Regions from separate parts of the Homo sapiens genome. Here region 2 is linked to region 1. A link means that fine-mapping ties the variant in region 1 to the expression of a gene that starts in the linked region. Tissue or cell type: whole blood. Region 1 holds a variant in brackets; the other region holds the start of a gene. All regions are shown on one strand. Distances are from middle to middle.

What was found. PIP is the estimated chance that this variant, and not a neighbour inherited with it, causes the effect.
Region 2: RBM33 starts here. The variant in region 1 is fine-mapped to the expression of RBM33 in whole blood (INTERVAL, PIP above 0.99).

Annotation. Positions count from the first base shown.
Region 1 is chr7:155,779,593-155,782,349 of GRCh38, reverse strand. RBM33 (RNA binding motif protein 33) reads right to left here. Exons shown (of 18, transcript NM_053043.3): 18 at 870-2,757. Among named protein-coding and RNA genes, the nearest start is that of SHH, 31 kb to the left of the region's middle. RefSeq lists an enhancer at 1-348 and a silencer at 601-895. The variant T/AGGTGATGGAGT (reference allele first, on the strand shown) is at 1,568.
Region 2 is chr7:155,643,550-155,646,306 of GRCh38, reverse strand. RBM33 (RNA binding motif protein 33) reads right to left here and starts at 1,646. Exons shown (of 18, transcript NM_053043.3): 1 at 1,388-1,646. The coding sequence starts at 1,430. RBM33-DT (RBM33 divergent transcript) reads left to right here and starts at 1,901. Exons shown (of 3, transcript NR_126344.1): 1 at 1,901-2,093; 2 at 2,703-2,757. RefSeq lists a silencer at 1,319-1,828 and an enhancer at 1,753-2,707.

The sequences.
Region 1 (2,757 bases):
TGCAGGTGGAGAGTGGGCTGGAGCTGGTCACCAGCGCCTCCCGAACCCCAGCACAGACACCAACACCAGCATCCGGGTGAGAGGGGAAGCCGGCCCATCACAGTACACAGGCAGGCTGGAGCTGGTCACCAGCGACCCCCGAACCCCAGCACAGACACCAACACCAGCATCCGGGTGAGAGGGGAAGCCGGCCCATCACAGGGCACAGCAGGGGGTGTGATGGGGGTTATCTTCTTGAATGTTTTGGACAGTAGTTTCTGGAAACAGAGCTGCCTTCTTTTTAAAGACTTCATTTTCAAAATAGACCATAAATTATGAGCAATTTCTAACAACATGAAAAACACGTGGGATACATGAAATGGAAAATATACATGATGGCATATGCACTGTGATCCCAACCTCCAGCGAGGCCTGCACACGGCAAGAACACGCCACCTTGGAAGAACGGCGTCACTGGAGACTGAGCTTCCCCACCTTCAGTCTCTTATTGCCATGCTGGAATACAAGTCTCTTCTGAAGAAAACTTGTAAAAATTATCTATAATGCTTTAAAAAATTAAAAAGACTAACTCCCCCACCCCCAACCAAAAGGAGCATACTTTGATGCCGTCTGCCTGGTCAGTTCGGAGTCATGCAGCGCCCAGAATGCAGGCAAGGAGGCGGCGGCTGCCCTTGACCTTCGTGGCCCACTAATGAGAGAGCTGCGTGAAAGCCGCGGGCTGCAACCCAGCGGCCAATCTGGGGAGCGTGAGGGCAGCCCCCGACCCCGGCCCCTTACAGAGGTGCGGAAGCACCGTCTCGGACACACAGGTAAGATGAGCTGTGGCCCGACCTGAGCGCCCAGACAAAATGAAGGCTACGGAACCAGAGTGGAAACTGCAGGGTTTTATTAACACGACTTCCAAATTACATACAATATAGTTCAAACACATTTTTTTGGTACGAAATCACACAAATGAAACACACAACAGTACATTTTCCTTTCAACTACGTCATTACCATTCTTCACACAGATCCTGAAAAAGTTACCACAGCAGTTAACGCGAAGTGAACAAAGGGGTGGAACAGGCAACGGCATTCCCCCAAGGTAGGTGTGGTGTGTCTGGGAGAAAACAGGATGGAGATCAAACCCAGAGAAACGCACTCCCGTCATCTCTCCATGTCTCAATTTCCAACGCTCTCCCAGTCAACACAGCTTCGCCCCCAACCAGAGCCACCCGGTGCAGCCCGCAGAGTGTACACGCATCAGGGCCGGGAGGCCCCGTCGGCAAAGCAGTAACACACGGTCAGACGGCCGCCACCTCCAAGTGGAGTGAGCCACGCTACCACTAACACTGAACTCAAGCACAAGAGCTCCTGCGAAAGCAGAGGGGCGGGAAACAAAGAAGCGGGTGGTTAAGGGCACGAACCGCACACTGCGGGACGCCGGCATCTTTGAATCGCCACTCACTCCTACAGAGCCAAACTGCAAAACAACAGAATTAAAAAGTTACTCTCTCCAATCAAAGACCTGGAGGAATAAATCGTGAGTGAAGACCTGTCGAAGCAAAGGTTGAGAGGTGATGGAG[T/AGGTGATGGAGT]GGTAAACACAGTGTGAAAATCGTCAGCACCTTCCCACCCAGCCCACGTGGAGTTCTCAAGGCTGAGGCGGAGCAGAGTGGCAGGAATACGGCCCTCACCCAGTTGAAGCCAGGAGGTGGAGGGAGAGGAGCATGGAAAGCCAGGGAGATGGGAAGGTCTGAGAGAGTGAGTCTTGGAATGGGACAGGAGCTACCAGTGTTAAGAATGGTAGATGGGTTTAGCCAGGAAAGCAAAACAGAAATGGACAGAGAGGGAGAGCCCAGAGCATGGCATGGTGAGGTGATCCCATTACTAAATGAACAGTAGCAAGAAGCAGGCACGTGGAGCAAACAGAATCAGCTCAGACATGAAAAAGGTCACACTCTGTGCTTTGCTGCTGTGGTACCTGAAAATTAAACAGTGGAATTAAAGCCCCAGAGTTCAAGTCCTCACAGAGGACACCATCCTGGATCCCACGCCTGTGAAAAGCAAAGCTGGATTATAGAAACGAGCGGTGGCTTTTTTTGCTCCTTCGGCTCAGGGCACCCCTGTGTGCTGTGCGCGCGTTATTGAAAATGTTACCCACCTAAGAAAAGACTACAGAACGCATACAGCTAGAACGCATACAGCTTACACAGTCCTTGCAAAACCAGCTTCCGCCACGGGTGCCCTTAAAATGAAAAGCAGTTTAAAAGAAAATCATGCTAAAAGAATGCATGAGGTCTACTTTCTAGAGTATATTAAATTATTAAATACAGAATACATTACAATAGTACCTGTCTGCCTATCCACTCTATGGAACATATTAAAATAAAAAACTACATGCTGTTTCTTTTTAAAGGCCTACATTTTTCTATATACCTTTTAAAATCAGTAAAATAAAACCAAGCAAAATATCAACATGAAGACCTCCTTCTCTTTTAGTTGGTTAGAAGTCAAAGGAAAAAGCAAGTACTCAGAAGTGTCTCACTAAAATACCTGTTCCGTCCGCCAATCTTAAAGATTTCCTACCAAAACATGACACAGAAAAGAGAGAGTTGAGACATTAAAAGCATTTTCTAGCCAAGGCAGGTTACAATGTGTGAGGCAAACGGCCTTTTCCAGCCATATGCTACCAGCAGAAGGTATACCTGGGGATCCAATATGAATCAGTGAGTTCCGCTTTAGTTCCAGTACACAAACCACGGGCTTATGCACCTCAGAAGTTAGG
Region 2 (2,757 bases), 140 kb after region 1:
GTGATATTACTATTTTAGAAATTTAAAATGAGAAACGTAAAAGAATACACAAGCATATATTCCATTAGCCATCAGCATAACGTCTTCACATGTTATTCAGCCTCTAGAAAACTCCACTGTACACTACTGAAAGAAAAGAGAAAAAATACAAATAACACCTTAGTCTTTCTAATGAAAAGAGTGTTCACCCAAGAGTTCCCAGGTTACACTGGGAATGCTATAAAACAAGTAATTCTGACCCCCAGAAAGATAGGTGAACTATACATTTTAAAATTTTAATTAGTCTCAGATGTAACACGCAAACATCATGTATTTAAACTGAAAGAAAAGTGGCATATAGCAAACCAAATTGCCAGAAGCGACATTCCTACACTTAGTCTTTTTTGTTTTTCCATTTTGTCAGGCAAACGTTTTGACAGTTGGGCCAAAATTCCTAAACAGGATGATAACAACGTAACCATCTGCTAGCATTTACTAAAAAATACTTCTCGAGTATACACTAGACTGGCTTTTCAACGTTTCAATGGTAAGAACTAATCCCAAATGCTTTTGTTATCCATATTTTACCATCTTTTCAAAGTTTTCAAAATAATCACTTAAAAAGTCACTTTCAAGTATCTCTCCACGTTTTTAAAACCCCCAGTGATATGTAATTTTACCTGAAAGTAATTTACCTACAATTTTTTAGAGATAGGTGTTTCATCAATACTGTTTATGCTTGCAAACAAGAAAAACTATCCAAAGGAACTGACTCAGTATCTAAACCTTTTGTGTCACGTTTTCACTTTTGGAAGACGCACATAAAACACTAACAGGTTATTAGACAACAAATAAGTTAATTTAAAACAGGGATTTATTGAGACTTTCTCAAGAAATCTCACTTTCCAAACTGGCCTACTGTCGCACATTCCTTCACACAGGTGAATCTTTTCGTTATGTTTTTGTAATGGGCTTCAAATCAATCTAAATCTGTCAGGATGGCCCCACAATCTTAAACACCCACCCTACAGCGACCTGCCCCGCTCTCCCTAAGTGACACTGTCTCGGGGGGTGGGGGGGGCGCTCTCCTACCCATAGGACACCAGGCCGGCTTCGGCACTTAATGCCCGCCAACGCCAGAGATGGGCCTGACACTTAGGCAGCCTTGCAAAGTAGAGGACACACAGAAGTTCACAGGTAAGTACGATCTGCACAGCGGAGAGGAGGAGCGAGAAAGGGAGAATGACAATAGCGAGGGAAGGCGAGGGAGAAAACGGAATAGGCCGAACACAAAGAGAGTCGGAGCCGGGGAGAGCCTCGTCCTCTCCTAAGCGGGGAGGCCCCCCGGCCTACACCCCCGCCCACCGCGGCGCGGTCCTGGCCCCCAGAGTCCGGCTGCCTCACGTACCTCCGGCGCCTGCTCCTCCGCTCGCTCCCAGGGCGGCCGCCATGGCACTCGCGGGGCCCGGCCTTCAGCCTCCCCCACCAAGCCAGCTGGTGGGCCGACGTGCCTGGTCCGGGCCCGGGTACGGGTGACGGAGGACAGAGAAGGGAGGGGGCTGCAGGAGGCAGAGGCGAAGCCGGGCGCTTCGCGGTCCACAGCTGGCCCTTCGCCTCCGCAGGAAGAAAACAACAAACTACCGCAACATGGCCGCGCGCCCGCGCCCGCCGCGGTGCACCCTGGGATGATGGAGGCCGGGAGGCGGGCGGGCGCCGGGGCCTGCCCCCGCCGAGGCCGCAGCAGCCCTGAGGCCGCCGCCGTGTTTCGGGCGGTGGGCGTGCAACGCAAACACGCGGCAGTCACCTCCGCCCGGCTCCTGAAACCCAAATGTTTGAAGCAGGGCGGGGACGACTGCTGGCCATAGGTCGATTCCGGGTTCAGTCGTAAGGCGCTTTGCAGCAGTCGGCAAAGCGAAGCTTTACGGCAGCCCGTCTCCCGTTAGGAGCCGGGGAGGCAAGGTCCAGCGTACGGTCCGGGGGAACCTTAACTGTCGTTTCTGTGCCTGGACAGTAGGTTGGAGAGTGGGGTCTGAATGAGCTACAGTAGTGAACGCCGACGGCTTGTGTTGAGGGCAGGAAAGGGTGCACACAGCTCCGGCAGGTGCTTCCGCGAGGTGAGATGAGTGCCGCGCGCGCCGGGCTAACGTGCACGCGCACTCGTGCGGCGCCCGCGAGCCCTCACTTCCTACAACCCGAGACCCTCCGGACCCGCGACCCCGGACCCCCGTCCCCTTCTCCGCGCCCGGCTGGGCAGCGGGCAGCGCCGGACCCTGATGGGCTCTCGGCCCTTACTGCCCCTGCGCCTTGCGGCCCTGAGAACAAGACGTGAGCAGGACGGATAGCGCCCGGCACTCATGTCTGAGTTTGCATTTTGAGCAGTGAGAAAGGTTAAGAAACGAAATCCTCATACTTGACATAAAGGAAAGGGTGCTGGGTGGTCAGACAGCTGTGGACGAAAGGGCTCAGGGGTTTTGGGGTGTGGGGCCCGGGAAGGCGCATCTGAGTGGTCGCAGTCGGGGAAGGGGGTTGATTAAGTACACACCGGCTGTAAACATTGATTCCATATCGGTCAATGTGGGGCTTAGGTGAGGCGTTCTGACCCAGCAATGAAACTGGAAAGGTAGGCAGGGGCCAGGATTCCGGACTTTGGGACGTTTTTCTGAGTCTATGGGGTCTATTGAAAGATTTTAGAAACAATTTACATGGTAAGATTTGTATTTTAGAAAGGTGACTGATACAACAACGTAGAGGACCCTGCAATGTGGAGAGGCATGAAAC